4 linked regions of the Homo sapiens genome follow. The protein of the gene in region 2 purifies or fractionates together with the protein of the main gene of each other region. This does not show direct contact. Each region holds a gene or a part of one and is shown on either strand. Other genes may lie near its edges.

Evidence for each region.
Region 1: the proteins of UBXN11 (region 2) and WASF1 purify together in Homo sapiens (affinity purification with mass spectrometry; 3 studies listed by BioGRID and IntAct, with this or other methods). This does not show direct contact.
Region 3: the proteins of UBXN11 (region 2) and RTEL1 purify together in Homo sapiens (affinity purification with mass spectrometry; 3 studies listed by BioGRID and IntAct, with this or other methods). This does not show direct contact.
Region 4: the proteins of UBXN11 (region 2) and NCKAP1 purify together in Homo sapiens (affinity purification with mass spectrometry; 2 studies listed by BioGRID and IntAct, with this or other methods). This does not show direct contact.

Annotation. Positions count from the first base shown.
Region 1 is NC_000006.12:110,120,382-110,127,817, forward strand, and holds part of WASF1 (actin-binding protein WASF1), read right to left. Parts: intron 7,249-7,436; 5' UTR 7,221-7,248; coding exon 7,088-7,220; intron 1-7,087.
Region 2 is NC_000001.11:26,296,623-26,304,058, reverse strand, and holds part of UBXN11 (UBX domain-containing protein 11), read left to right. Parts: intron 1-891; exon of another isoform or gene 892-1,016; intron 1,017-1,140; 5' UTR 1,141-1,175; coding exon 1,176-1,246; intron 1,247-2,336; coding exon 2,337-2,365; intron 2,366-3,034; coding exon 3,035-3,133; intron 3,134-5,996; coding exon 5,997-6,097; intron 6,098-6,577; coding exon 6,578-6,632; intron 6,633-7,063; coding exon 7,064-7,140; intron 7,141-7,436. UniProt on the Homo sapiens protein: May be involved in the reorganization of actin cytoskeleton mediated by RND1, RND2 and RND3. Promotes RHOA activation mediated by GNA12 and GNA13.
Region 3 is NC_000020.11:63,689,160-63,696,595, reverse strand, and holds the end of RTEL1 (regulator of telomere elongation helicase 1), read right to left. Parts: intron 7,095-7,436; coding exon 6,948-7,094; intron 6,847-6,947; coding exon 6,731-6,846; intron 6,510-6,730; coding exon 6,386-6,509; intron 6,303-6,385; coding exon 6,155-6,302; intron 5,792-6,154; coding exon 5,649-5,791; intron 4,855-5,648; coding exon 4,759-4,854; intron 3,792-4,758; coding exon 3,593-3,791; intron 3,454-3,592; coding exon 3,313-3,453; intron 2,225-3,312; coding exon 2,108-2,224; intron 1,856-2,107; coding exon 1,622-1,855; intron 1,531-1,621; coding exon 1,375-1,530; intron 1,269-1,374; coding exon 946-1,268; intron 819-945; coding exon 738-818; 3' UTR 351-737; downstream 1-350. UniProt on the Homo sapiens protein: A probable ATP-dependent DNA helicase implicated in telomere-length regulation, DNA repair and the maintenance of genomic stability. Acts as an anti-recombinase to counteract toxic recombination and limit crossover during meiosis.
Region 4 is NC_000002.12:183,035,281-183,043,179, forward strand, and holds the start of NCKAP1 (nck-associated protein 1), read right to left. Parts: upstream 3,178-7,899; 5' UTR 2,820-3,177; coding exon 2,712-2,819; intron 1-2,711. UniProt on the Homo sapiens protein: Part of the WAVE complex that regulates lamellipodia formation. The WAVE complex regulates actin filament reorganization via its interaction with the Arp2/3 complex. Actin remodeling activity is regulated by RAC1.

The sequences.
Region 1 (7,436 bases), on a different chromosome or scaffold from region 2:
CTTATACACCAATAACAGACAAACAGCCAAATCATGAGTGAACTCCCATTCACAATTACTACAAAGAGAATAAAATACCTAGGAATCCAACTTACAAGGGATGTGAAGGACCTCTTCAAGGAGAACTACAAACCACTGCTCAACGAAATAAAAGAGGACACAAACAAATGGAAGAACATTCCATGTTCATGGATAGGAAGAATCAATACCGTGAAAATGGCCATACTACCCAAGGTAATTTATAGATTCAATGCTATCCCCATCAAGCTACCAATGACTTTCTTCACAGAATTGGAAAAAACTACTTTAAAGTTCATATGGAACAAAAAAAGAGCCTGCATAGCCAAGACAATCCTAAGCCAAAAGAACAAAGCTGGAGGCATCACGCTACATGACTTCAAACTACACTACAAGGCTACAGTAACCAAAACAGCATGGTACTGGTACCAAAACAGAGATATAGACCAATGGAACAGAACAGAGCCCTCAGAAATAACACCACACATCTACAACCATCTGATCTTTGACAAACCTGACAAAAACAAGAAATGGGGAAAGGATTCCCTATTTAATAAATGGTGCTGGGAAAACTGGCTAGCCATATGAAGAAAGCTGAAACTAGATCCCTTCTTTACACCGTATACAAAAATTAACTCAAGATGGATTAAAGATTTAAATGTAAGACCTAACACCATAAAAACCCTAGAAGAAAACCTAGGCAATACCATTCAGGACATAGGCATGGGCAAACACTTCATGACTAAAACACCAAAAGCAATGGCAAGAAAGCCAAAATAGACACATGGGATCTAAATAAACTAAAGAGCCTCTGCACAGCAAAAGCAACTACCATCAGAGTGAACAGGCAACCTACAGAATGGGAGAAAATCCTTGCAATCTACCCATCTGACAAAGGCTTAATATCCAGAATCTACAAAGAACTTAAACAAATTTATAAGAAAAAAAACAACCCGATCAAAAAGTGGACAAAGGATATGAACAGGCACTTCCCAAAAGAAGACATTTACACAGCCAACAGACATATGAAAAAATGCTCATCATCCCTGGTCATCAGAGAAATGCAAATCAAAACCACAAGGAGATACCATCTCATGCCAGTTAGAATGGTGATCATTAAAAAGTCAGGAAACAACAGATGCTGGAGAGGATGTGGAGAAATAGGAACACTTTTACACTATTGGTGAGAGTGTAAGTCAGTTCAACCATTGTGGAAGACAGTGTGGCAATTCCTCAAGGATCTAGAACTAGAAATACCATTTGATCCAGCGATCCCATTACTGGGTACATACCCAAAGGATTATAAATCATGCTACTATAAAGACAAATGCACATGTATGTTTATTGTGGCACTATTTACAATAGTAAAGACTTGGAACCAACCCAAATGTCCATCAATGATAGACTGGATTAAGAAAATGTGGTACATATACACCATGGAATACTATGTAGCCATAAAAAAGGATGAGTTCATGTCCTTTGCAGGGACATGTATAAAGCTGGAAACCATCATTCTAAAAAAACTATCACAAGGTTGGAAAACCAAACACCAGATGTTCTCACTCCTAGGTGGGAATTGAACAACATGAACACATGGACACATGGTGGGGAACATCACATACCCGGGTCTGTCGGAGGGTCGGGGGCTGGGGGAGGGATAGCATTAGGAAAAAATACCTAATGTAAATGACGAGTTGATGGGTGCAGCAAACCACCATGGCACATGTATACCTATGTAACAAACCTGCACACTATGCACATGTACCATAGAACTTAAAGTATCATAATAAATAAGAAAGAAAGTAAAGAAGCAGATCTCCGATTTTAAAAAATGGAATCCAAAAAAAAAAAAAAGAAGACATAGAAGAAGTGGTGTCAGAAAACAAATTGACATTAGAGAATCTGGCAAAAGCGTTCCAATTATTCAAGACTACTTTTGATTTATTTTACAACGTGAACCCTTCTATGATACAGTACCAAAACTAAAGCAAATAAAAGGAGGATTGGTACCATATAAAAACATTTTTAGAGAAATGAAGAAGCAAAAAAGTCAGAAATCAAGATGTGTTTTTGTAAAGTTACACCAGTGTGCCCACCTCTACTACTTCTACCTCCTCCACCTCTCTGCCTCTGCTACTCCTGAGACAGCAAGACAAACTCCTCCTTTTCCTTCTCCTCTTTGGTCTGCTCAATGTGAAGATAACGAGGATGAAGACTTTTATGATGATCCACTTCCAATTAATGAACAGTAAGTATATTTTTTCTTATGGTTTTCTTAATAACATATTCTTTTCTCTAGCTTACCTTATTGTAGGAATACAGTATACTACTACACATACAACATAAAATATACATGTTAAGCAACAGTTTATGTTCTCGGTAAGGCTTCTGGTCAATAGTAGGCTATAGGCAGTTAAGTTTTGGGGGAGTCAAAAGTTATATGCAAATTTCTGGCTTCACTGAGGATCTGTGCCCCTTACCCCTACACTGTTCAAGGGCCAACTGTATTTTAAACTTTAAACCCTATCTAAAGTCACCCAGCCATGACAAAGTGGGGAAAAAAAAAGAGATACCCTGGGAAGCCTGCTTTTAAACCTTGTTCTACTACTTTCTGTTAAATGATTTGTGTCTAAAATGGAAATTACTTGCTTTATCTATATCTGTCCACCTGATGAGGGTTAGAGAAGATTATGATGTAAAGGTATATGCAAATAATATGCCTGTCAATCTGAAAGCATTTATATGTAGACTGTAGCATTTATATATAATCAGCATTTATATATAATCAGCATTTATATTAGCTAGAAATAAATTTTAGGCCAAGTAGCAGAACCCAAGATTCATCAAAGACCTAGAAGATTATCTGTCCCAGGGATGCCCAAGATATAGATTCAGAAATTTAGGAGATCTTTTACACCCTCTTGTTACAACTTCTGAAAAAAAAAAATCATAAATCTAAAATCACTGTATTCCTCTAGTTGTGTAAGTTCTTATTACTGAAAAGAGTAAGCCAAAATAACTTGAAGAAGATCCCTGCCATTACTGAATTTTGAGCAGAGGGAGAACCAGACATTTAAGCAAATATTTAAAGCAATTTAATAGATAAGTCCTAATATTTGTTCTATTCACTGTGAGACCTTGGTATCAATTTCCTTATCTGTAAAATAGGAATAAAAACATCTGTCTCTAAAAGAAGCAAGAAAAGAGCCTTGAAGTGCACCTCATACAGAGGAGCCCAATAACAGGCAGCTCTTAATATAAGGTAAGAGCAACACAGCAGAGATAGAAGCACCTCACTTTCAGGTGTCAAAAGTTATTTGGTGATCAAGATACTTCCAGAGACAGTTTCTCTGGCAGATAAGGGAAGCATCCCAAATGGAAGAAAAAGCAGGTATAAAGTTACTCATTTATTCAACAATTGGTAGGGATACAAATGCTAGGTGTAGATACAGAGATGGAAAAGACTAATCTTGGCAATAAGAACTGACTATATTCCATAAGAGAAAAGCCAGGGGAAGAGATCCCTTAGGTATTCAGAATCCCAGTGGTTGTTAATGAAAGGAGTTAGCTAGCTTGCTTTAGGCAGACAGTAAGGGAAGGGTCCCCAGAGAACCTCTGACCCACCCCACAAGGGCTTACACCAGATGCTTTGTGCAGATAAGGGAACTTGCACAGGGGGCTTGCTTAAACATGCCCACAGCAGACTAAGGGCCTGCATGTGCACTAGGGAAATGTGGTGAAGCCACCAGTAATCTGTGCCTCATACAAATAGGGAACCCAGCCCCATCAGCGTCTCTCTCTCTCTCTCTCTCTCTCTCCTCTCTCTCCTCTCTCTCCTCTCTCTCTCTCTCTCTCTCTCTCTCTCTCTCTCTCTCTATATATATATATATATATATATATATATATATATGCCCTTGTATTCAACTGTGACGGGGCAACCTGGAACCTGCTTTCAGGACCCCTCTCTTGGCTGAGAGCTTTCCTTTCACTTAATAAATTCTACTCCATTCACTCTTAGAGTATCTGTGTGCCTAATTCTTCCTCATCGTGAGACAAGAACCTGGACCTAGCTCAGCTAAGGAGTAAAAAACCTTGCATCATTAAGAAAGCAATAAAATGAGAAAGAGGAAATTGATATAAAGTGAATTATAGGTTTGTGGTAATTACCTAATACAAAACAGAATTATGTTCTACTAGGAAAAATCTCACAAAAAACAGATGTACTGGCTGGGTATGGTGGCTCACACCTGTAATCCCAGCACTTTGGGAGGCCGAGGCGGGTGGATCACTTGAGGCCAGAAGTTCAAGGCCAGCCTGGCCAACATGGCAAAACCCCATTTCTACTAAAAATAATACAAAAATTAGCCAGGCATGATGGCACTCGCCTGTAATCCCAGCGGCTTTGGTGGCTGAGGTACAAGAATTGCTTGAACCTGGGAGGTGGAGTTTGTAGTGAGCCAAGATCGCACCACTGCACTCCAGCCTGGGTGACAGAGCAAGACTCTGTTTCAAAAAAATAAAAAAAGGAAGTACATTTTTGTGAGGAAAAGGTCAGGAAGATATCCAGCCCTGAGCCATGTGGATCCCTGCAGTTTACTTTCATTGCTATATTCTCAAGCACTTTCAGTACTAATAATAGCACCAAAGTGAAAATCTCCATTATCTAGAAACATTTTGGATAGCCAAGTTTTCTAAGTAATTCAGATTTTATTATCTAATACATCAATTGTTATTTTAACTATTTTCGATGGAAACTTGTGAAATGTATTCTAAGCTTCCCTCTTCTTAAATGGAATATAAAATTAAACATAATTTAATTTTTTCTTAGGGACTCACGGGCATGAATTATGAAAATCAAATATTATCCTAGGCCAGAAAACAGCCTTGAAATGTATAAGGATATTTGCTTTACATTAAATGGCTTCTTTCCAGTTTTTATGTTGCATCTTCCCTTACATCACTTTGTCCTTTCCTGTGAACTACCTCCTTTTGGTTGGGTTCAGTGATGCCTCCTTCTAGTATCTCCTCCCATGCTTCCTCCTTTTATCCTCTGAAGCATAACTGTTTGGAAACCACATCATCAAATCTGTTTGAACTATCAAGGTAAAAGTAAACAGGTTTTGAGAGAGGGATCAATTGGTTATTTTATGTGCATGGTCTTTAGTGCATGAGTTTATTTATTCTGGCTATCTAGAGGCCTTTTAAATTTAATTCCAGGTTCTCAACTATGTCAAGTGGGAAAGCTGCCAGAGAAGTTAATTTCAGGGCAGTAAGCTATTGTCACACCTTGCTAGAATATTTTATGGGTTTTCTCTTTGTTTTTGAATCTCTACAAACTGCTTAAACAATGCCTTCCAGGTCTCTGATTCTAAATGTGAAGCACCCAACACCTAATTTAGTTATATTGTTACAAGGTATTTATAATTTTCAGAGTTTCGCTACAGCATAACCATGTGCCTGCTGATAGATGTTGCTTATATGGACTATATAGACTTAAAAATTCCTTAAATTTTCATCTTTAAGTTTTGTAACAAATGGGTTAGTACTGCAAATTATCACCCTTAATCACAATATTAGTTCTAAATTCTATATTGGGTATATACCTAAAATAAGATGCCTGTACTGGATCCACAATTCATTTTAAGAAATATGTTATACAAAATTACTAATGCCATTTCTATGTTCTTAACATGTATTTTAATATTAGCATGCTTATATACTTATGTATGTACATAACATATATAAAACAAATTTTATATGACATCATGTTATACTTGATTCAATCCGTGCTAGGTCACAAAAAATCTGCAAAATATCTTTAAACAATATAGTTAATCATATTTAAACTGGGAACTCTAACACTTTTTTTATTAGCCTCAAGTAAACAATACAATATTTTAGTGATTCACTAACCTGAAAAAAATGACCACTGAATGGAACAAGGAATATACTTAAAATTCAAATAAAATAGCCTTTTATTTATTCTTACTATTTCACAGGCAATGCAAAAATTTAGTACTCTCACAGAGAATATTCAAATGTAACTTTTTATGTTGCTCTCGCTACAGGTATGCCTAAACTTTCTTACCGGAAACAAATTAGATTAACAACCTCTTGTGCTAAGTACTCAATTATAAAAGAAAGGACAAAAGTTAAAAGGAAAAGAAAAGAAAAGCCAAGCCTGCTTATCAGGAGAATTTATATGGCTGATGAGATAAATCTAGGACCACTTGGTGGATATTATCTCTGCCAAGAACACCTTGTTTCACCTTTAAAATGAAATATCAATGTCTTATGAAAAAGCTAATCCTTCAATGCAAAAGACAGACCAGATTTTTTAAATTTTCTAAATAAACTTAGAATAGAAAATAATTTGTTTAATTCCTTAACCAAGTTGCTCTATTCTGTAAATCTGCAATGAGAACATATTGCCTGTCTCCTTCTCCCTAATCTGCCTCTTTCACTGGCCTTTATTCTCTGGCCAACCTGCTTGACTTCTGTCTGCCAGAGGCCAAGTTCATTTGCTGTTTTCACACAATGCTGCATATCAGATTCCTGACTTATATCCTAATGTCTCTTAGACATCCCACTTGACTAGCCTACCCCTCTGACTAATAATGACCCCATACCTCTCACCTTAGATCTTTGCTAATATAAAAATATTTCCCTAAACTAATTAAATATATATATAAAGAGAGGGATACTAGTGTTTGAAAACACAAATAGTTGAGGCCTCTAAACAGAGTAAATAGTGATAATAACCAAGGAAAAGTACAACTCTGGTCCTTTCGCAGATTATATATTTTTAAAACAATCTCAATAATTTTCATTCATCATGTGTTTCTGTTCCTAGAGATTCTGTCCGTATTTTCCTTTCCCAGAAGAAACATCATGCAGAAGAGGTTCTTGTAAAACTCAATAATTATACTCATGTGACTATATTTTTCAGGATAATTTTGTACTCTTCTCACCAAATCATACTCCCAAATTAATCAGAAGCACAACTTCTTAATACGCTAAAGCATAACATTCTGGTTTGTGAGTATATTTTTAATTGATATATACTTACTTAGGCTACTTAGTTGTCTAATTATATTTGCCAAGGAAATATTGGTTACACATTCCAGTTCATTCTTAATGCCTCTAGGCAGTGCTGTGTGGCACAAGTGCCTAGGATCGATGTTTCTTTTCACTAGCGGCATCTTGAGATTAACCTTTGTGCCAGTTCACCTGTAGGAAATCAAAAATAAATTAACAATATTAAATTTCAGCCAACACAGAATGAGACTTTATTTTTCATTGAAGAATAAAGCACTGTTGACCCTTGAACAACATGGATTTGAACTGCCTGGGTCCACTTACTGGTGGATTTTCTTCCCTCTCTGCCTCCCTGAGACAGCAGGACAAACCCCTCCTCT
Region 2 (7,436 bases):
CAGGCTGGGTGCAGTGGCTCATGCCTGTAATCCCAGCACTTTGGGAGGTCGAGGGGGGCGGATCACCTGAGGTCATTTACTGAATAGAGTAGTAGCCTTCGATTATGTCCTTCAGGTGCACTCCTTTTTCCAGAAGGAAGAGGAAAGGAAAGGAAACTAACATTTACGAGTGCTTCCTATGTGGCAGCAACAGCAAAAACAACAGCAGCCCCAACTCACATTTTTCAGTGCTTCCTTTGAGCTTGGCGCTGGGCTAGACCTTCTCTGTTATCTCTGAATCTGCTCAGAACCCTGCCTGTGCCAGTACTATTACGACCCCCATTTTATACTAAAAGAAACTGAGGGTGGGTTACTCCAGTGAGTGGCAAAACCTGGCATCTTAACCTTGGTGTCACATGGACTGTGTCTTTTTTTTTTTTTTTTTTTTTGAGATGGAGTTTCGCTCTTGTTGCCCAGGTTGGTTGGAGTGCAATGGTGCAGTCTCATCTCATTGCATCCTCCCCACCTCCTGGGTTCAAGCGATTCTCGTGCCTCAGACTCCCAAGTAGCTGGGACTACAGGAGCACGCCACCACGCCCAGCTAATTTTTGTGTTTTTAGTAGAGACAGGGTTTCACCATGTCGGACAGCTGATCTCGAACCACTGACCTCAGGCGATCCACCCACCTCGGCCTGTGTCTTGATTGAATCCTGCCTGTGGGTTGGCCTCTCTGGCTCTGAGATGTTGGGAGTGGCACCTGGTTTCTGGTGGGAGGGAAGGAGATACTTGGGCTTTGTGTCACCCAGCTGGCTGATGGACGGACAGCCTCCTGGGTAGTAGCATTTTCAGGCTCTAAGTTTGGGAAAGTTCCAGGCTTCTGACTCATTTCTGCATCCCATCCCACCCTCACAGTACTTTCCCAAGCACCACCAGGCCAAAGGTCTCTCAGTTCAGAGCAGAAAGCCGTATACCCAGAGGAGCAGGCAGATAACAGAAACTTCCAGAAACCTCTGTGGAGACAGTGGAAGAGGCAAAAGGTACTGCTGCCTAGACAGCGCTTCCCATTAGGAAGAGTAGCCAGGGAAGTGGAAACTTCAGGCTACCCCCTGGGCTTGGAGCCCTGAGTCTGTCCCCAGGGGCTGACTTCCTGCATTCCTCTAGGGAGTTCCTGACAGCTGGATTCTAGAAGTAGAACTATGAGCTCACCTTTGGCCTCCCTTAGCAAGACCCGAAAAGTGCCCCTGCCCTCGGAGCCTATGAATCCTGGGTAAGGAGCCAGCCTCAGGGGTCTTTCTGTCCCCGCCTCTGTATCCTCTTCTATCCTTCCATGGCCAGAGGACAGTGACTCCTAGTGTCTTGGGGAATACAAAGAAGGGCCACATAGCCTTCCCTGACCACTGTCTTTTTCTTTATACCTTCTTCTGGGGCACCCAACTTTGGATCTGAGCATAAACTGGGTTGTGCTTTTAGTAAGGTATGGGCCCTGTAGGAGTGGCTTGGCATCCCATCTGTTCATTCACTGTTCATTGATTAATTCTGCAAACACAGATGGTCTACGGACCTATCCTGGGCCAGGCCCTGTGTGGGGTTCAGTAAAGGGAATCTTTTACATCTGTCTAGCACTTTCATGTTTTCAAAACATTTTTTACCTCTCTTCCTTCTTGCTCTCTGGAATACCACTTTGAGTCTTTTTTTTTTTTTTTTTTTTTTTTTTTTTAAAGACCAAGTCTCGCTCTGTCGCCCAGGCTGTGGATTGCAGTGGCACGATCTTGGCTCACTGCAACCTGTGCCTCCTGAGTTCAAGCGATTCTCCTGCCTCAGCCTCAGTAGCTGGGACTACAGGCGCATGCTATAACACCTGGCTAATTTTTTGTATTTTTAGTAGAGACGGGTTTCACTGTGTTACCCAGGATGGTCTCGATCTCCTGACCTCGTGATCTGCCCACCTCGGCCTCCCAAAGTGCTGGAATTACCAGCCACCGCGCCTGGCCCCACTTTGAGTCATTCTAAGGCCTAGAAGATTCAGAGAGGTTAAGCAACAGGCCTCACAGCCTTTGCAGAGCAGAGCTGGGGCTGAGCTCATGGGCTTTGCAAGCCTTGTAGTCTTCCCACCTAAGACTCTGCTCTTCACCCCTTCCCCATCCTTCTCCACTGGGTGAAGTCAGACACCTCGAAGCCTGTCCCTTGTCTCACCCCAGGCTGGGGCTGGGATTTGGGGCTGGAAGTCCTCAGGAGTTAGAGGCCCTGCTTCCATCTCTTTGAGCTTTGGCTGAAGTCCGGTGCCCAGAGCCTTATCCCTGGTATCATTCCAGGGGCCCTAACTTATATTTCTTCCTTCTTCCTGCCTGGGTTCCCAGGAGGCGAGGAATCCGCATCTATGGAGATGGTAAGTGTGCCCCGCCCTCGTGCCCTCTTCGCCTCTCATGTGCTTGCACCTCCTACAGTTGGACCGATGGAGAGAAATCACACGAGAAAGGCCCTTGTCAGCTGGAGCAGCGGCCTCCACCGTGTTCTGTGCAGCTCCCATGCTGTCCTCCCTGAGGGCTGGGCTTCCCTCCTGGAAGCTCTCAGATTAGGAGGCCCCATACCCTTGGCACAGATGTTGCCACTCACATTTGAACCCCTTGACCCACTGTGGGACTGGCCAGTGTGTGCCTAGAAACCAAGTGAGGGCCAAGAGATTACCCAGCCCAGGGGTTTGGATCCCAGCCCCCCTTCCCCCTCCAGCCTCCTCCAGTGTGACAGCCTTTCTCCCGGGAGGCCTGTCCACACATTGCCACCCTGACTCTTGTAGCTCAGGCCTTTGGATCCCTGCCCCCCAACTCTCCACCATGGCATTGGCATTGGCCATGCCAGTCCCCCTGGGAGCAGGACTGGAAGAACTCCAAAACAGCCCCATTCTGGTTGGATCCTTGCTCCCCAGCCTTGTGAATTCTCTCTCCTCAAACTCCCTGGGGCACAGTGCATAGGCCGCGTCACACTGGCGAGGGCCCAGGGCCTGAGTTTCCTCTGGGTCTCCGCCCCAGAGCGGTGACCTAGGCATCCCTGTCTGCAGAAGATGAGGTGGACATGTTGAGTGATGGGTGTGGCTCAGAAGAAAAGATCTCAGTCCCTTCCTGCTATGGCGGCATAGGTGCCCCTGTGAGTCGGCAAGGTGAGAGCAGAGGCCTGAAGGGTCTGGGTCCTGGCTGCAGGAGGGGGCCCCAGAGACGGGGCAAGGCCTAGGGAGGCATGGCCCTTCCTCTCGCCTGTTTGGTCTGAGGCAGCTGCTTCCACTCCTGGCTGATTGTGGCAGGGACCTGGCTTGGCATAAAGCCACACAAGCCCCACCCTTAGCTCAGGAGGCCGAGGCCCAGCCCCAGCCCCAGCCCCAGGCCAGGCTGTGGCTATAGTTACCAGGTGTGATATCAGTGGGCTCAGGATTCAGGGTCAGAGAGGGATGAAGTCTGAGGGTAGAGCTCAGCTTCCTGCTTCTGCAGGGCTCTGGCAAGGCCCAAAGTCGCCTAGACAGTCTGCTTAGCTTGGCAGAGGGCTGTGGCAATGCTGAGCTCATGGAGGCACCTAAAGTGGGATGGGGCTAATCAGGGTGGCTTCCCAGAGTGGGGATTTAGCAGGTCTGAGAAAAGGGGAGACATGGGCAGGCAGGGATGAGCCCTGCAGAGTGCTGGGCGGGATCTGGGGATGCTGGGGATAAGGTTAGAACTTTCCACTAGCTCACTAGCTGTGGTATCTTGAGCAAGCAACTTCGCATCTCTCTGTCTCTGAGGCCTCCTCTGTGAAGTGGGCATGGGAACAGCGAGGGCAGCGTGTTGGGAGGATTCAATGAGATGCTCCTCGGTGGAGGGCCCCTGGCCAGCGCCTGTCACGCGAGGTGCTCAGTGTGGTGGCTGCCCATCAGGAGGCCAGCCATAGGGAAGGGCCTGATGATTCTCCCTCAGGCCCCTTCCATTTTACCGGAGGAGGGAATTGAGGTGGAAAAAGAGACAGGAAGAGCCTGGCCTAAGGTTCTGCGGCCATTTCACCACAAAGCCAAGATCTCCTATACCCTGGCTGGGGTCAACTTTCTTTTTTATTTTATTTTTTTTGAGACAGGGTTTTGCTCTGTCATCCAGGCTGGAGTGCAGTGGTGCGATCATGGCTCACTGCAACCTCAGCCTCCCAGGCACAATCAGTCCTCCTGCCTCAGCCTCCCAAAGTGCTGGGATTACAGGCATGAGCCACCATACCCAGCCAGGTCACTTTCAGTAGTAACCATGGCAACCAGGTTCTCTCTTTGAAAGAGCTCCAGGTGTCCTCTCCCTGCTTTCCCCTGTCATCCCCTCCTCTCCCACTCCCAGCCAATATCTGTCCCTACCAAGGTAACAGATGAGGACTTGCCTATCTTATTTTACTTCTCTGCCAGCAGTGTCCTATACTGTCCACTGCTCCTTCCTTCTCAGGACCTCCACCAAGCTCTTAGGCACCAAGCTGCTGCCCTCCCATTACCCTCTGCTTCTAGGCTCTGTCTCTTAGCTGTCATCACCACCTCCTTTTTTCTCTCAGGTTTTTTTTTTGTTTTTTTTTTTTTTGGAGACTGCCTTGCTCTGTTGCCCAGCCTGGAGTGCAGCGGTGCAAATCACTACTTACTGCAGCCTCGACCTGTCAGGCTCAAGCAGTCCTCCCACTTCAGCCTCTCAAGTAGCTGGGACTACAGACACACACCACCATGCCTGGCTAATTTTTGTATTTTTAGTAGAGACAGGGTTTCTCTATGTTGCTCAGGCTGGTCTCGAACTCCTGGTCTCAAGTGATCTGCCCGCCTCGGCCTCCCAAAGTGCTGGGATTACAGGTGCGAGCCACTGCACCCAGGCCCTCAGCTTTTCAATGTGATGTTCCTCTGGCCTGGATTCTCCTCTGTGTCCACTGTGCCCCAGTGAGCTCACCTGCACTCCATGTGTAGACAGTTCCCAAATGTTTGTCAATTAAGATGCATTTAACTATAAGTCAAAGAAAACCCTTCCTCAGCCAACAAGAACATTAAGGAAGTTTTGTTATCCCACATGCAAAGAAATCCTAAAGAGGCAGCTCCAGGGGTGTTAATTCAGTGACTCCAAGACATCATCAGGGGCTCAGGTTTCTCCATCTTTCCACTGAACCTGCCTTGACATGTCAGCCTCATGTGGTTGTAGGATGATGGCCGCGGTTCCTGCTTCATACATAGAAAGGACACTGTCTAGGGGAAGAAAAGGAAAAGGCCTGCTTCTTCCTGTAGGTTTCTCTTCTTTTCCATTTTCATACTTTTTTTTTTTTTTTTTTTTTTCTGAGACAGAGTCCCTCACTCTGTTACCCAGGCTGGAGTGCAGTGGTGCGATCTTGGCTCACTGCAACCTCCGCCTCCTGGGTTCAAGCGATTCTCGAGTAGCTGGGATTACAGGCACCTGCCACCACGCCCGGCTGATTTTTGTATTTTTAGTAGAGGCAGGGTTTCACCATGTTGGCCAGGCTGGTTTTGGACTCCTGGCCTCAAGTGATCCACCTGCCTTGGCCTCCCAAAGTGCTGGGATTACAGGCATGAGCCACCGCATGCCCGGCCCTGGCTACTGTTTTCTACAGCACCCCGCATTCTGGCTTTGTCTGGCAGTTTGCCCGTGGGGTATTTGCCTCACTCCTCTATCTGCTGTTTTGCGTACCAACTGGACACTAGATTTGGAGGTTTGATTAGATCGAGGGTGAAATTCTTGGCAATGCTTCAGGGTGATGTCACCCATATGTTACACCACTTCCTTGTATATGTTGGACAAATTACTTGATCCCTTTGTGTCTCAGTTTCCTAAAACAGTTCATTTACCTCCTGGGTGTGTTTCAAGGATTACAGGGGGTTGATCTACATGAAGTGTTTAGAACAGTTCCTATGATGCCAGTGGGAGCTGCTCTCAGTACCTTCATTTCCATTCCTGGGACCCCTATCCTCCTCCCTCCCCCCCACAACTCAGCCTCGGCTCTAGGTCTGGGCTCTAAAGACTTTGTGTGCTTGGCAGTCCCTGCATCCCATGACTCGGAGCTGATGGCCTTCATGACGAGGAAGTTGTGGGACCTGGAGCAGCAGGTGAAGGCCCAGACTGATGAGATACTGTCCAAGGTGGGGCTCCAGGTGGGAGAGGGCCAGGGGCCGGTCTGAGAGGTGGAGGGACTGGGCTGGGGAGGCCAGGAGTTGGACTAGGGTGGGTGATTCTAGAACCGTCTACCACACTGACCTGCCCAGTTCGAGGACCAGGTGTGGCCTGGGCCTGATCTAGGTCCTGTGACCTGAGCCGAGAGGCTGGGGGGTCTTCCCCTCAGCTGAGCAGGACCCAGTAGACCCTGGACTGGGTGGCACAGTGGACTGCTGAGCAGAGCGCGGCACCCTCAGATGTGGGGGTCCTCAGGTGTGGGCCGCACCTCTCCCTACCTCAGAGGAACTGCGAGGGTTATCTGAGGTCCGGGAGAAGTGGCTGTGCCAAAGGGTGGCAGGGGCTTGCTGCTCCCCAGCATCCAACATAGGCAAAGCTCTGGAGCTTCCTGTCTGGGCAGGGCTCTGGGAACCACAGGCCCTGTGCTCACCCTGTGTCTTATGCTACAGGATCAGAAGATAGCGGCCCTAGAGGACCTGGTGCAGACCCTCCGGCCACACCCAGGTAGGGGGCTCTTGGAGGGCTGACCTGCGCCCCCAGTCAGGCACCTCCCCTGGGCCCAGGGCTCCTGGAAGCTTCACAATGGCTTCTGGCATCAAGAGCATCAAGCTGACTACTTGGTGGGGTCTGGACAGCTGAGCCCACAGAGGGGCTGCAGCATATCCAGGACAGTGCTGGAGTCACTCCATGCCCTCCTACATGGGACCGAGTCCCATCTGAAGTGTGGAGGAGAGGAGGCTCTGAGGGGAGTGGCAGCCTCCTAGGGCCCATCAAGGCACCGCCACGGGGTCAGAGGAGAGGCCAGAGAGGTGGGGGGCCAAGAGGCAGTTCTTGGGGGATCCCCAGAACAGCTTCTCCAGATGACCCTCAGGGCAGAGGTGACCTGGCAGTGTCTTGCTGGGGCAGCTGAAGCCTGTCCCTGTCTTTCCCTGAAGCCGAGGCAACCCTGCAGCGGCAGGAGGAACTGGAGACGATGTGTGTGCAGCTGCAGCGGCAGGTCAGGGAGATGGAGGTGAGAGAGCTGGGCCCCGGGGGATGCGGGCAGCCAGCAGTCCCCAGCTCTTCACGGCATGTTCCTCAGGAGCTGGGTCCGAGCCCACCTCTCTGGGCCTCTCCTCGTCACATCCCACCCAGGGACCCTGCCCTGCATTTCCCTACCCAGGACTGGCCCAGACTTTAAAGAGCCAGGGAGGTGTCTGGGGCTGGGGCACACCCCTGCTTTTGGGCCCTCTGAACATGCCTCTCCCCTGCTTAGCAGACCTCATGGCTCCCACTGAACTGAATTCTACAGTCCTCGCTGTGGCCCCT
Region 3 (7,436 bases), on a different chromosome or scaffold from region 2:
CTCGCCACGCCCCATAGGAACCCCTCCCTCCCCAGGCAGCCCCCCTCACCCACCTGGTACCATCCCTCCCCAGAGCTCAGTCCAAGGGTGGTTCTGGGAGGGGCCTCACCAGCCAGGGAGCTGCCCTCCTCAGCACCTGGGGCAGCTCCCAACCCAGAGACCAGCCCAGGCAGCCTGGTGTGTCGGTGGATCCCCTACCAACTGCAGCTTGGCTGCGGCTGTGAGGATGAGGGCAGGGCTGAGCCCACCGTGGAGGAAGTACAGTGTCACATGGCAGGCTGGGAGGGGCCTCTGCCAACTCCCTGTCCCTCAACTCCCACCACCAAGCCCAGGCCACGAAGACACCGTCCTGGGCACTGCCAGCAGCTTTATTAGAGAGCCCTGTCCCCTGATTAAAAGTGGACACGTGCCCACGGGGGTCTCCTCCTTCCCGGTGAGGGGCTCAGCTGGGGTGCCCCTGTGGCACCACTCACAGGCCAGGAGCCAGGGAAGTTCTGGGGAAGCACTTTCCCAGAAACCCACCCCAGACCCCAAGGTAGCTCAGGGCTTCTCAGAGGCAGGCCCAGATCCGGTCCCACCGCAGGGACCAACCATGGGCCCCGCCTGCCTGAGGCCTGCAGCGGGCCAAGCCGGCTGGCATGGGCTGGCCTATTCTGTTGGGTGGGTTCTTGGCCCACCAGAGCTGGACAGGCAGGTGATCAAGCCACGTTGGGTGTGCTGGGGGCCTCCGTGGGCACTCACTGGGGCTCTGGCCAGAAGACCTGCATGACGCTCTGCTTCCTGGAGGCGGTGTGGCAGGCTGGGCACATCCTAGAGGCCTGTGAGACAACCGGCCCACTGCACACGTCTGCCAGGCGTTGCCACCAGGACAAGGGCCTGCCCTTTCCCCCTCAGCCCATCACCTGGGGCTACACCCAGCAGGAACTGTAGTGGCCAGGCACCAACCTGAAGGTGCCGTTGCCAGCAGGCTTGGCAGCGCTGGAAGTCACAGGCAGGGCACTGGAAGGGCACCACGTCCTCTGCCCCACAGCCCTGGCACACACAGCCTGCTGAGAGGGGCCCGCCCGGAGCTCCCGTGGCCTGCTGCCCAGCGATGTCTCTCCCATGAGGCTCACCCCACTCAGATGCTGCAGGCCCGTGGGGAGGTCCTGAGGACTGGCTGGGACCTGCATCCTCACCGCCCGCCCCCACAGTCCCTGCTGGCCTCTGTCTAAGGAAGGACGAGATCTTGCTCTGGGTCTTCCCGGTCTTCTCGGACCGTGAGGGGCCTGGAGACAGAGACTTGAGTCTGAGGGGGGCCTGGGGCTTTGCTGCTCACTCCCAGGGCTGCGTGCGGTTGGGGCGCTGCCAGGAGCAGCCAGGCAGGTGCCCTACCTGGTTGGGGAGCCCTGTGGGTAAGCACAGGAGGCACGGCAAGCCTCTCCTCCTGGGGTCCCGGTGGCTCCATGCCCGGGTAGGGCCGGCCGGTCAGGTCTGTGCACGTCTGTGAGAAGCGCTGCTTGTGGTGTGGACGCACAAACATGCTGAACCCTGCGGGGAGCTTCAATCAGACCCGGCACAGCCCCCATTTTGTCCCCTGCCCCCCACCCCACCGGCTGTTCCCCACGCCAGGGCCACTTGCTGTGCAGCAGGGGGAAGTCCTCTGGCTTTGCAGTGGTCAGGGCGGCCAACACAGCCAGCACCTTGTCGAGGTCGTCGTCTTGCTTATAGGCTGTCAGCGCTGCCAAGAGTTGGCTACAGCCCGCGGACCCCAGGGCCCTGCGGGCATCAGCCAGGTAGGCGCTCACGGCGTGCTGGCCCTGCTTCCCTGCTCTGGGCACTCCAGACCCCCACTGTGGTTGGCTGCCAGGGTCTCCTGGTGTGGGAGTAGCATGGCTCAGAGTGGCGCTGGGGTGGAGGACTGAGAGTCCCACCGCCCTGCCCGCCCTTCCTCCAGGAACTCCTGGAGAGCTGCTCAGGACAACTGCGGGGTGCAGAACCGGGAGCAGTCCCCACCATGAGATGGCTCCCCACAGGGGCAGCCCCGGCCACACTCAAGAGTTAGCCTCGTGAAGCCACTGAGGGACCCACCAAGTCGTAGGCTGCACACGGTTCAGGAGTCAGCTACCTGTTGGGGGTGGCCTGGGCGACAGGTGGGGCCTGCCCTGGTTCAGGTGCTCTTGGGGGTCCAGCTGCTGGGCTGCAGCCGTGGACACGGTCAGCTTGGGATCCGGCGCCGTTCTTCCTGATGAAGAGATGTAGAGCCACAAAGCTGGTCGAGAGCATCTGGAAAGTTCCCTGGGGTGGGGGGGCAGGGCTGGCTAGGGAGGCCAGGCCTCACCCACCTCAGACCAGGGCGGGAAAACCCAGGCAGGTACACGCCTGGGTGCTGGGGGCATCAGAGGAGACACCAGCCTGCTGGATGGGGGCTGGAACAGTGGCGGGCAGGCCAAAGCCCCACTCAGGAGCTCAGAGCCGTAGGCTGGGTGCAGGCATGAGGATATCCCAGTGAGTACCAAGCCCAGAAGGGATCTGGGGTCGTCCCAACAGGCTAGGTTCCCCCCTGGGTGAACTAGGGGAACTCTGTAGGGGCTGTTCATTAACACACGAACACAGATGCTTCCGCCTCTGGAGACTTGGACTCCACCCCAAACAGAGGCAGAAACAGGGAGGACAGGGGTCTAGGACCCTAGGACCCTGGCGTGTGCAGTTGACCCCCCAGGACCATGCATGGGAGGCAGGGGACGTGTGGCAGTTGGACAGGGCTGTGCTTAGGGGTCGGGGCTATGGCAGGGACAGGGCTGTGCATGGAGTTGCACAGGGTCTCCCCAACAAGTGATGCTGCTGCTGGTGGAGGTGGAGGTGGTGGTGGTGGTGGAGGTGGAGGTGGTGGTGCAGGTGGTGGTGGTGGAGGTGGTGGTGGTGGTGGTGGTGGTGGTGGTGGTGGTGGTGGAGGTGGTGGTGGAGGTGGAGGTGGTGGTGGTGGAGGTGGTGGTGGAGGTGGAGGTGGTGGTGGTGGAGGTGGAGGTGGTGGTGGTGGAGGTGGAGGTGGTGGAGGTGGAGGTGGTGGTGGTGGTGGTGGTGGTGGAGGTGGTGGTGGTGGAGGAGGTGGTGGTGGAGGTGGAGGTGGTGGTGGAGGTGGAGGTGGAGGTGGAGGTGGAGGTGGTGCTGCTGGTGCTGGTGGTGGAGGTGGAGGCCCCCATCACTCCCATAGGGGAACAGAGAGGCGGGGCCAAGCAGGGCCCGAGGATGCCCACCCCAAGCAGCCCAGGACTCTGGCCCACACTGCCTTCCACGCAGGAGTCTGAGGGTCCCACCTGGGGCCCCATTTACCAGTGGGGTCCAGGACCGGCTGTGCCCGCTGCCTTCGGGGAATGCTGTGCTCAGGCCGATAGCCACAGCCTCGTCCTGTCAGCTGGATACAGACCTCCTCAAACTGCTGCTTATGGTGGGGCCGCACAAACTGGTAGAAGCCTGTAGAGGAAGGGGCGTCTGTCCCCATCTGCCCCTTTTTCTCTAGAGAACAGAGACCACCTTGGACCCAGATGGCCCCCACCCCACACGCGGCGGCAGCACTGCCCTCAGGGTGGGTGGCCTCTGCAAGCCAGGGCACCTTGGAGCAGGTTGTGCTTCTTGGGGTCCTCAGCAAAGAGGGGGCCGAGACAGGCGGCCAGGGCGGCGAAGTCATCGGAACCCTTGTAGTCCTGCAGGGCCTGGGTGAAGGTGGCAAAGTTGGCTTGGCTCAACTCCTGCTTCACGGCCACCATGAAGAGCTTGGCCCTGTCCGTCTGTGCACCAGCCACGGGCTCCTCCTGCAGGACACAGGCCCGAGGCTCCATCAGGGCCAGCCTCATCATCTGGTCCCTGGGGCTGCAGAGCCTTCCTTGGAACATTGAGCGTTCCCTGGGACAGTGACTGCCGAGGTGGGGCTGCTGCCTGAGAAACTGGCTGGCTGGATGGACATAGGGAGGGGCTGCGGGAAGAAAGCTGTGGGGCTGGGCCCGTCTGAGGTCACACAGTGAGAGGCTGGCAGGGAACTGAGAGCAGTGAATGGGCAAAGGGTAGATTGGCTCTGCCTCAAGCCAGGGGTCCTGCATGGCCCGTCTCTCTCCTCCTCCCTCAAGCCCCCTGCCCCACAGCGGATGCGGCTGAGGCTCCCAGGATGGCAGCGCACAAGGAGGGGCTTCCGGATGAGCAGTGCCCATCTCTCTACACACCCCAGACCAACACGGAAACGTGGAAACCAAGGCAGGGGCGGCCCAGGCACTCCCCACCCAGGCCCTCGCCAGCCCAGGCCCCTCAGCAGCCACCCACTTCCTGATGGCACCAGCCCTGCCTGGGCACCACCCAGTTCTTCCCAGAAGCCAAGGGACATGGACAAAGGCCGCCACACTTGGGGTTTTCCAGCAGGCAGGGGGCTTCCTGGCTCCGGCTATAACTCCGTTCTTTGATCCAAGGCTAGGAATGGGCTGTGTCCCTCACATGAGGCAGGTGTGCATCCACACTTGAGGGAAATGCCAGGGCCAAGCCCAGTGCTGCAGGCCCCATGCCAAACCTGCCCAAGGGTGGGGCCTGATTCCAGCTGGGACTCATGAGCCCCCTGCAGAAGAAACCACACACTTGAGCCCCTGGCCGTCAGCATCACAGCTGCCCTGGACATCAGCTCCTGGGGGTGGATTCCCTGGTCCCATCGGGACCAGCCGTGGCTGGGGGCACCCACGGCTGCGTTCCCATGCGTGTCTATGGTGGTCGGCACAGGTGCAGGGACAGCTCACGCACCGGGTGGCTGACCAGCCGGATCTTCTTCCTCCCTCCTCGCGGTTCTTCTGCCGGCCTCTTCTCAGACAGGAGGGACAGGGTGGAGCAGCTGTGGGCCTGAGGAGGACACAGCTCACAACCACACACAGACCCCAACCACACACTCTGGGGTCCCAAAGCACCTGGACGCACAGGGAAGATGGTCCCAAGGAGCCCTGAGCCAAGATGGAGGTCGGGGGAGGGGGGCACAGCACACCCCGGTGACAGTGCCACAACTTGGTCCTGTCCAAGTCACACCAGCGGCTCATGAGGCTCGCAGGTGGTGACTTGTAAGAGCAGGTCCAGGGAAGACAGTCCGACCACAGCGAGGGGCTGGCAGGAAGGGGACACAGGTGCCTGGTGCCTGCACCTGGAGCTCACTCCAGGGGCCTGAAGGGCAGGGATGGGCAGGAAGAGGGGAATGGCTCCCAGCAGGAAGCAGGGAGAAAATTTCGGGTTGGCCTGAGGAATTATGGGCTTCTGGGGCAAAAGGCCCCAAGGAAGAAGGAACCTGGGTTCCACCCGCAGCACATTCCTGGAGAAAGGCCAGCCTCAAGCGCAGCCAGTGGCAGGGGCACCCGACCTTGAGTGCACTGAGCCAAGCTGACCCGCCAGAGAACCAAAGTGATGTGGGGGGCACCCGCGGAGGGCCAGGGCATGCACCACCTGGGAGCCAGCAGCCTGTGGGTGAGGTGGGGTGGAGGACCCACAGACAGCCAGGCAGCTGGGATCCCCCGCCCGCTTGCCCGCCTGCCTGCCAGGCAGGGGATTTACAGGGGTGTGTGGGGAGGTGCCTGAGGCCAGATGGGCGGGGTCGGGTTGGCCTCAGGAGACAGAGGGTCTGTGTCCATCCCAAGGCCCTGGAACTGTACCTGCTCCTCGCCAGGGCTCCCCGCCCGCTGTTCGCTGTGCTCCAGGGCGGCCAGCAGCCCCCTGGGCCTCTGCCGGGCAGGAACTGGCTCCTGCTCATACTCCACACACAGGCTACTCTCGGGGTCCCCGGCAGCTGGTGACCCTGCAGGGGCACCCGAGTGCGCAGTGAAGCCCACGGGGGGCCCCAGCTGGGGTCCCTGCCTGTGGCAAAGCCCCTCTTGGGGGAGAGTCCCAGCACTTGGGGTCCTGCCTGTGGGTGTCCTCCCTGCTATTGGGGGGAGTCTCAGCCTCGGGGGGCATCCTTGCCTGGGGCGTTCTCTGCCTGTAGGGGAGGGTTGCAGCCCGTGGGGGCCCTGCCCTAGGAGGGAGAGGCAGCCTTTGGAGGTGGGAGGGGAAGCGCACAAAGCCAGGTGAGTCGCCTCCGCCCTGGGCGCCTGGTGCTGCCCGCCCCACGCCGCCCGCTCCGCCACCCCCACACCGCCCACCCAGCGCTGCCCGTCCGCACCTGAGGACCTCTGCTTCAGGCTGGGGACATGCAGGTCCAGACTCTTAGCTTTCCTGGTGGAGAAGAAGGGGCCAGGCGACTTGGCCTCGCTGACAGCATCTTCTCCACGCACACTGGGTGCTGTAGCCCGGGGGGCCGGCGCTGGCATCTGCAGAACCATGGGGGTGGGTGGACCCATTTCTGGCTCCTCTGGGGACAACACCCTCATCCCCTCCCTGGGCAGGAACTCACAGTTCGCTCGGCAACACGGAAGAACTGGGCCACGTCTCGGATGACATGGCCAAAGTTGTCATACACCCTGACGTGGGGACGCACCCAGGAGGGCAGTTGGGCTCTTGCGTCGGCAAAGGCGAACCTGGGGGGTGGCCATAGCCCTGCTGCCCTGCCCACAGCCGCTTCAAGGGTTCAGTTCACCGAAGTGAAGACCCTCATCTGCTGCAGGGGCCCCACGCTGACCCCGAGTAGCCGGAGAGGCTCTGGAGGAGACGGGGCCTCATGTGGGGAAGGAGAGTCCAGGGGCCCAGTGGGGTGTGGGCGTGTCCCCTGGCGCCGCGCCTGCCACCGGACTGCACGCACCTGTGGTCACAGAGGAAGACAGCTCCGTAGTCCTGGCGGTGCCGGATCACTCGCCCGATGGCCTGGTTCACAGCCCTGGACGCCTGCTGCCGGTACCACTCCTGCCCAGAGAGGAACTGTGGGGCGAGGCGGCTCGGTCACGGGGGCTCCCTTGGCCACGGGGCGGGGGCTCAGTCACCAGACCGCCTTACCCCAGCCCCACCCTGCTGTAACTCACCTGGCCCCCAGCCCCACCCTGGCCCTTCATCTCATCCAGGAACTGCATCTTGAGGACAACCCGGGGGTCCATGCGTGGGGGGTACGGGAGGCCCGTGACAATCACACCACGGCCATTCGTGTCTGAGAAGTCCAGCCCCTCGCTGGCCTAGGGGACACACCAGGGAGCTGCCTGGGGCCGTGGGGGCTCCTCTCCCTGGTGCCCACACCCAGCCCAGCCACCTTCCCCGAGGCTCCGTCCCCAACCAGGGGTGGGAGGAAGCTCCATCTGTGGGTCAGGACCCCACTTGGGGTCCACAGCTCCCAGACGCCACCTCCAACTCTTGTGGCCAGGAAACTCCCATCCTGCCTGCCCAGGCCCAGAGCAGGACACGCTCCCAGCAGGGCCAGCAGTCGCTCTCGTGGGACCCAAGGAGGGGACCGGGCAGCCCCCAGGGCCCAGAGTCTGCTGGGGAGCCATAAGCACCCACCAGGGAACAGGCAACCAGGT
Region 4 (7,899 bases), on a different chromosome or scaffold from region 2:
ATTAAAAAAAAAAAACATTCTTCAGTAATCATGCTCCAACTTCCCTAATAAGCGCCAAAGCATATTACTGACAATAATAAGTTATTTTACTTAACTATTTTTCATTGTATATGTTCACTAAAATATCATTTCCACTGTATACTTCCAATTGAAACAGAGTAATTAGATCTGGTAGACAATCTAATGCACATGCATTAATGAAAATGTGATAATTGATTGGCAAACATGTATTATGAGGTGGAAGGTTTTTTTTTTAAGACTAGAAGAGGTTGAGATTGAAAAGAGTATGTGGTTTATAATGCAGTAAGAATGCAGACAGCATGAACCTAATAAACACATGGTGAACAGATCTTACTCACTTCTTTGGCAAGATATTTGAACAAATGTTTCAATTCCTAGCCAGCTGGGAAGATATGCCAGACTCACAGACAATTCTATAGGCTGAAAGATCCAAAATCTTATCTGATTCATTTACATGCAAAATTACACAAAGGGAGCAAACCCAAGGGTATTATTATTAAAACTAGAGCACACAGGTTTTGAGAGAGAGGAGGGAAGTAATTCATTCATTTCAACCTGGCCTAACTGAAGGCCTCGAGTATCAGATAAGGCCCTAAATACTCTAGTATTTCAAAAATTACACTGTCCCTGCCCAGAGAAAATTCACACTCAAGCAAGGTAAGCAATGTATTTCTTAAGAAACTAAAAATATAAGGCAAGTGCTAAAATATGACGTTTCAATAAATCAAAATATTTGACATGGATATAATAATGATCACATTCAATGCATTTTAACTTTCACAAGTTCAATAATACAAGAGGCTGAAGCTTCCCAAAACAGGAAGTGAAAAAAACAGTGCTTTTGAGAAAAGGCAATGAACTGGAATTATTAGAGTTCAAATGCCCAGAATTTCATTTAATCTTATTTATGAAGGTGGGATATTAAAGTTTGATTGCATTTATCCTACAAAAATGTTTAATAAATGCTTAGAAAAGGTATTTTGCCCAAATACCCAAATCACTTTTGATGTTACTCTCACTTCCTCTTTTAGAAACCATCATAACCATTTCCTTTAAACCACAATACCACAGGTCTAGTAACTTTTATAATATTTGACTTGTTCATTTTTGGACAAAATTCATATAGGAATCAATTTCCAAGTTTTTTAAGCAGCACAATCTCCCCGAACAGTTCAGGTCAATGCAACCTCTAAGTAATACTATTTAAAACTGAATTATTCCTAACCTATATAAATTTATAACCTAGGCTCCTTGGTAAATGCAGAGGGGCTTCTTTGTCATGACACTGAGCTCCTGCCACATAAAAGGTAACAAACTGAGTAAGCATGTTGCAGTTACTCTCCAGATAGCACTGGGTTTAGAGTAATAAAGCCTTGCAATTAGGTGAGCAACCAGACTTTGTCCTTATCCAAAATTTATCATCATTAAACCAGGACACTCTTTAGAATTAGTGTCTACATCAAATTGTAAAAAATAAATCAATTTTACACTCAAACGCTTGGAAATGAATTTCCAAAGAAAAAAAAAAAAACCTTTCTTCAGAAGCCCTCTCAACCTACAATCTATTGCTATGATTAAACTAAACGGTAACATTCACGATATATTAAAAAGCCAACAAATAGTTATGAAGGTATGACATCAAAGACACATTGGAAACTCGATGGATCTAAATTTTCCAAATATCTCTTTTTCTCTTTATCAAATTGTTTAAAACTTACCAACCTTGCCTTAAGGGGAGAGATTTTGTTGTTTTGTCCTACGATAATGAATGTAATTATTTGTTCTATCTTTACATGGACTTTTCTAAACTTCCAGTGGTCTTCCACTCCTTACTGTACTGAGGACATGTAAAAGCCTTTAAATGGGCCTATTAGCTATAGTTGCTCAAATTATCAGACTATGCTATAAATCAGCAGCAATTGCAACATTTTTACGGTTTTTATTTTGTACAGACACCGAACTTTAAGAAATGGTATTGGAAAATCTAACATGAGGAGGAGTACAGGGGAAAGAGTAGAAGGTTGTTATTCCAGTTCTAGTGACTCACAGCCTAGAAGTATTTCAGAAAATTGGTTCCACCCTCACTTCCCCCTCCTCTCCACCTTCAAAATGAAATAATCCCAAATCGTCAACACACTCTCAATGGCTTTTTATTTAGCAATCTAAAATAAAGTGGCAAAGTGGAGGGGATACGGGATTCATCCAATCAGCCCTTCTCTACCCACATTCCCACACCAAAAAATGGGGATGTGGGGTGTAATCCCTGTTCACTGCTGCCATCTCCGTAAGAATATGGAACACTCAAGTTTTCCTACCCACCTAGAATTTCGCCCACCCACCACCCTCCCTTTCCTATGGGCCCCATCATGGGGGCGGGGGCGCCGAGGAGGGGACAGCTCCCGGCTCCCAGCGGCGCCCCCACCCCGTGCGAGGCCCAGCGCCCGATCCCGCCGCCGGGAGCCGGGAAATGGCTTCTCTGCCTTCGGCCGGCCGGCGAACCACAGGGAGAGGCGCCCGGGACTCCGCATTAGGCCGCGGCGCATCCAGGCGACCCCGGGCCGGGCCTCGGGCGGCGACGCCGAGATTTCTACACCCGGCGCCTCCTGCCGCCCCCACCCCACGGCCTCCCTTGCCCTTCATCCCTCCCGGGCCCGCCCGCCTCCGCCGCGGCCTCCCCGGCCCGTGCGCACCTTCTTGATGTTGTAGAGGCGGGTGAGCATGCCGACGCCCCGGTCGTTGAGGATGGTGAGCTTCTCCGCCAGCTTCTGCTGACTGGGCTGCAGCACTGAGCGCGACATGGTGGTGCTGGTGCCGCCGCCGCCGCCGGCCGCCTCGCGCCCAGTCACGGGCCCGCGGCCTTCGCAGCAGCCTCTCTCGGGCCTCCTCCCCTCCCGCCCGCGACCTCCGCCTTAGGAGAGCGCGCCCATGGCCCTCGCGCCCCAATCCCGCGCCGGCGACAGAGCGAGCCGCGGCGGACTCCTCGGAGCCCCTTCTCCCGCAGCAGCCCGCGCCCCGGCAGCCTCCTGCCTTCCGCCCGCCGCCCTTCCGCCCCCACCCCCGGCGCTCTCCGCCCCAGCCCCCAACGAGCCGCCTTCCCCGGCTGCTCCACTAGGTGTGGCGGCGGCGGCGGCGGCGGCGGCGTCTCCGGCGGCTGAGAACGAGGCCGCTTCCCGCAGCCCCGGACGGGCCCTCGGTCACCTGATCGGCAGCGCCGGCGCCCCCGCGAGGCCGGACGGGGAACTGCGGCCGACGGGCCCTCGGCATGGCCTCGCCGCCGCCGCTCTGGCCCTGGCCCTGGCCCGGACCGCCCACTACGCCTGATGCCGGGATGGGAGTCCCAAGCGGGGACTGAGTGGGGTCGCGTTGTGTGCTCTTTCCACTTCGCCCCACACCCCACTCCTTCAAGTTCCCAAAAGTTGCTTTTCCGCACCACCCTTCTAAAGAAACCGGCAGAAACTCTGCTGGGAGGCGGGGTGTTTTCCAGGCGAGTTTCGCTTAAGAGTGGGCTGGTGGCTCCAAGCGCTTTTTCCTCCCACTGCTTGACAGGCGCTCGCCGCAGAACACAGCAGATGTTGTGCTCCGCGAGGTGGGGATCGCCTCTGCCAGCCTCCCCAGCCCATCCTCAGTCTCCCCGCCTGGAACCAGTTTGTGAGAGAGGAGGTCGGAAGTGAGGGTAACTCAAGTCCTTGAGATAATCACAATCTAGACTTTGTCGGCGAGGAGCACCCATCCGGAGGAGACGCAGTAGGTCCTGGCATGTGGAAGGCAAAAAATAAATGTTTGTTCAATGCCTAAAGGAACCGCTCCCATTTTTTTACAGCCTCCACCCTAAATCCCACTTCTTCTTGGAAACATTCTTCTTTGCCATCTCATTTTTCCTGATCAATTTCTTCTTAGCGACACTCCAAGGCTACTCCCTTGTCAAATGTATTAGACATGATTCCAAAAGTGAACTAACTGAGGACTTACGTAATTGAGGTGAGAAACTTCAGCCAAGAGGACTCAGGCCTCTAATATTTTTGGCTTTGCCTTTTCTCGATATGTTAATTTTTTATATTATATTCATTAATTTTAAGTCAGTAACAAAATGTCCCGCCACATTCAATAAGACATTCTAAGAGTAATAAGCCATCACTGGATTTATCAAAACTCTTTAAGAAAAGGAAATTGTAATGAATAGCTTTAAAATATTTTTTAAAGCTACTATATCTACTATTCGTAAAGAAATCTTCATTTTAATATTCCAACAAGAAAGAAGGAGTGGACTGAATGGATTTAATCTAAGGGGCATTTAAAAGAGTCCTGTTCCCACCAAAAGAAGTCATAATCATACCTGCCAGTGTGCCTGAAATTCTATATACAAAGCTGCAGTACCTTGAATGAATGCTTTGTACCTAGAGAGTCTTAAGAATACAAACACTTCAGAGAGATCATCTGTCGAGCTATTACTAGTCATTAACTGGTCAAGGAATTTAATTTATCTGGTTACTTCTCAGCCTGATAGTTAACATTTTAATTTAGAGGAGGCAAGGTTGTGGGGCCTGGAATAGTAAGGGCAGACCTGAGAAGGGGAGGCTGCGAGGAGGGGTTTGGGGTAGCCAGATAAGAAAATTTAAAAATGTTGAACATTGGGGAAATATGTGCTCCTTTAGGGAGACTACAAATAACTAAGTCTAGACGCAGAATTACAGAGTGCTACCAATAAAAGATTGTCTCATTTTCTAGTTTTTAAAAACTGCTGTATAGGGAGAACAAGAAAATGGCACTGTATTATAAATTTGAACACAACTCTTACTCCCCAAGAAAAACTATCATGTTGCCATATAAACTTGAATACTAGTAGCTGCTTATAACTCAGGAAGTACCCAATAGGAGAACGCTGTAGATAGTAGTCTCATTATTCAATATTTATTGTCACTAATTCATAGACATACTGGCCCTAGACTGTAATGAAATGTATATATTTGCGTAAAAGAGATTAGATGTAGATGAATTACAATTTTTGTCTTTCTCTACATTTTGCATTAAAAAGAACAAGTGTACGGGAATTTTTCTTAAACTTTTTAACTTTTTTGTAGAGACAGGGTCTCCCTATGTTGTCCAGGCTGGTCTTCAACTGCTAGGCTCAAGCTCCATCACACCTGTAACCCCCACACTTTGGGAGGCCAAGGCAAGAGGATTGTTTGAGTCCTGAAGTTCAAGACAAGCCTTGGCAACATAGGGAGACCCCCATATCTACAAAAATTTAAAAATTAGCTGGGGGTGGTGGCGTGCCTGTGGTCCCAACTACTCTGGAGGTTGAGGTGGGAGGATCACTTGAGCCCGGAAGGCAGAGGCTGCAGTGAGCTGTGATCACACCCCTGTACTCCAGTCTGAGTGACAGAGCAAGACCCTGTCTTAAAAAGAAAGAAAGAAAGAGAGAGAGAGGAAGGAAGGAAGGAAGGAAGCAAGCAAGCAAAGGAGGGAGGGAGGGAAGGAGGAGGAGAGGGAGGAGGGGAAGGGAGGGGAGAAAGGAAAGAAAGAAGGAAGGGAGGGAGAGAGGAAGGAAAGGAAGGAAGGAGAGATGAAAGAAAGAAAGAGAGAAATTGAGGCCAGGCACGCTGGCTCACTCCTGTAATCCCAGCACTTTGGGAAGCCAAGGTGGATGGCTCACTTGAGGTCAGGAGTTTGAGACCAGCCTGGTCAACATGGTGAAACCCATCTCTACTAAAAATACAGAAATTAGCCGGGCATGGTGATGCGTGCCTGTAATCCCAGCTACTTGGGAGGCTGAAGCAGGACAATCACTTGAACCCGGGAGGAGGAGGTTGCAGTGAGCCCCGTGATTGCACCACTGCACTCCAGCCTGGGTGACAGAGTGAGACTCTGTCTCAAAAAAAAAAAAAAAAAAAAAAAAGGAAAAGTACATCCATCATCCAGCCTCCCTTGCAGCTTATGTTCTGACCAGTAAGATATAAGCTGTCAAGAACCTTCCTAAAGGGACTGCTGCTGCTCTCCATTTGCCAGTTCTTCCTCACTTCCTTCATTCTGCCACACCCAACAAGGATGCAATGACCACTATCTTGAACCAGGAAGACAACAGCCACTCAGTAAGGATGACAAAACATAAAAATGGAAGGTGTATGTGGGCTTTTTAGAACACAACAGCCATGTCAAACTTGGCCTGTCTAGACCTGGTTTTGTACGAAAGAGAAATAAACTTCTAGCTTTTTTATTTGTTTTTTTTTTTATTTACTTACAGCCAAACGTGATTCTCAATAATCCTCAAACGTGATCCTCAATAATAAGTTTCTGTGGCCAACTTTATAATATCTCTAATAGGAATAAAATAAGGGAGGATAACTAGATTTAATAGTTATGGTTTTTGCACTGTGTCAGATGTTGTTACAATTTGAGCTACATTTTCTCATTTACTTCTTTCAAAAACCTTTAGAGATATTATCATCTTTAATTTTACAGATGAGAAAACTGAAATGCAGACAGTTTTTTTTTTTAATTGCCAAAGATCACACCCATAGAAAATGGTAAAGCTGATATTGGATCCCTTATCGGTCTGACTCCAAAGTTGGTGCACTACTGTGACAAGACAGTTGGATGGCACTACATTTTTCATGCATCCAGTGAACATGATTCTATAGTTTCCTCTAGAGTCCTATAACCCTGCTCAAACCTTTATAAACAGTTCCTTCACTTTCTTCAATTCACAGTTAAGAGTCTGCCATATTTTTTCCTGACCGATACATCAGCTTTTTTAGATGGCTTTCTTTAGCTTTGCTTTCTCCAGAAACTAGCATGAGAATTATTTCTGTAATATCTTTTGCTAATCATAAAGAATGTTTATGCGTTCTTTTTTTAAAATCACTTAGTTTACCCAACCCAGTGTTGCTTCTCTATATAAGGCAAGAAGTGAGAAAAATTGATTAAGGGTATCTCTATAGGTTCTTAGGATAAAGCCCTTTGATTAGGAGGTCTGCCATCAAAGGCAGTGTTCCACTTGATCTTAAAGACAAATATAATGTTTTTCCTCCCATCAAACTTCAGTGTTCCACTTGATCTTAAAGACAAATATAATGTTTTTCCTCCCATTAAACTTCTAACCAGGTATTACTAAGTATGACTAGAAATGTATGAACAAATTTCTCTTTGAAATAGCCTGGGAATTGAGAAGTAGACATAGTAATTTTGTCTGTCCTTCAACCCTTCCTTTGGGAAGCCACCACCTTCTGACAAAATTGAATGCAGAAAGAAAAAGGGCCCAAGCTGTGGGAAGAGTCAGACATAAGTGAATAACAAATTAATAGAGCTTTTCAAGGAAGTGCCATTCTAAAAAATTGCATTTGGTGAGACCATAATGCAGAGAAACCAACCCTGGGTGAACAACAGTGGAAAAGGACAATAGATTTCCCTGTGGTTTAACAGTAATTCATGTCCTGTTCTTCTGCTTGGCAAAGACCACAAGGTATAACATTTATTCCCCAAAAAATTATTAAGAAAGAGAATGAGGAAAAGACAGGGCAACAGTGAGGAAAAGACAGGGCAACAGTATCCATAGTAAATGAAGGAAGGAGTTAAGACTTAGCCAGAGATTGCAACTCAGTAGAGCAGAAGAGTAACTGAGACCAGAATAAAGACACATGAGGTATCTCCAGTAATCAGTAGAAGAGATGCCAGAAATACAGCTGATCTGAAAAGTTAAAAAAATGAAATAAAATAAAGAATTAATTACAGCCTTGATCTTGACCACTCACATCCAATTAGATTCATCTTATAGTATGCCTAATCTTTGGTAATATAACTCACACATGTTTATTTGCACCTGCTCTATAAAACTATAGATTTAGCTTTCCTTTTTTGTTGTTTTTGCTTTTTGTTTTTTTG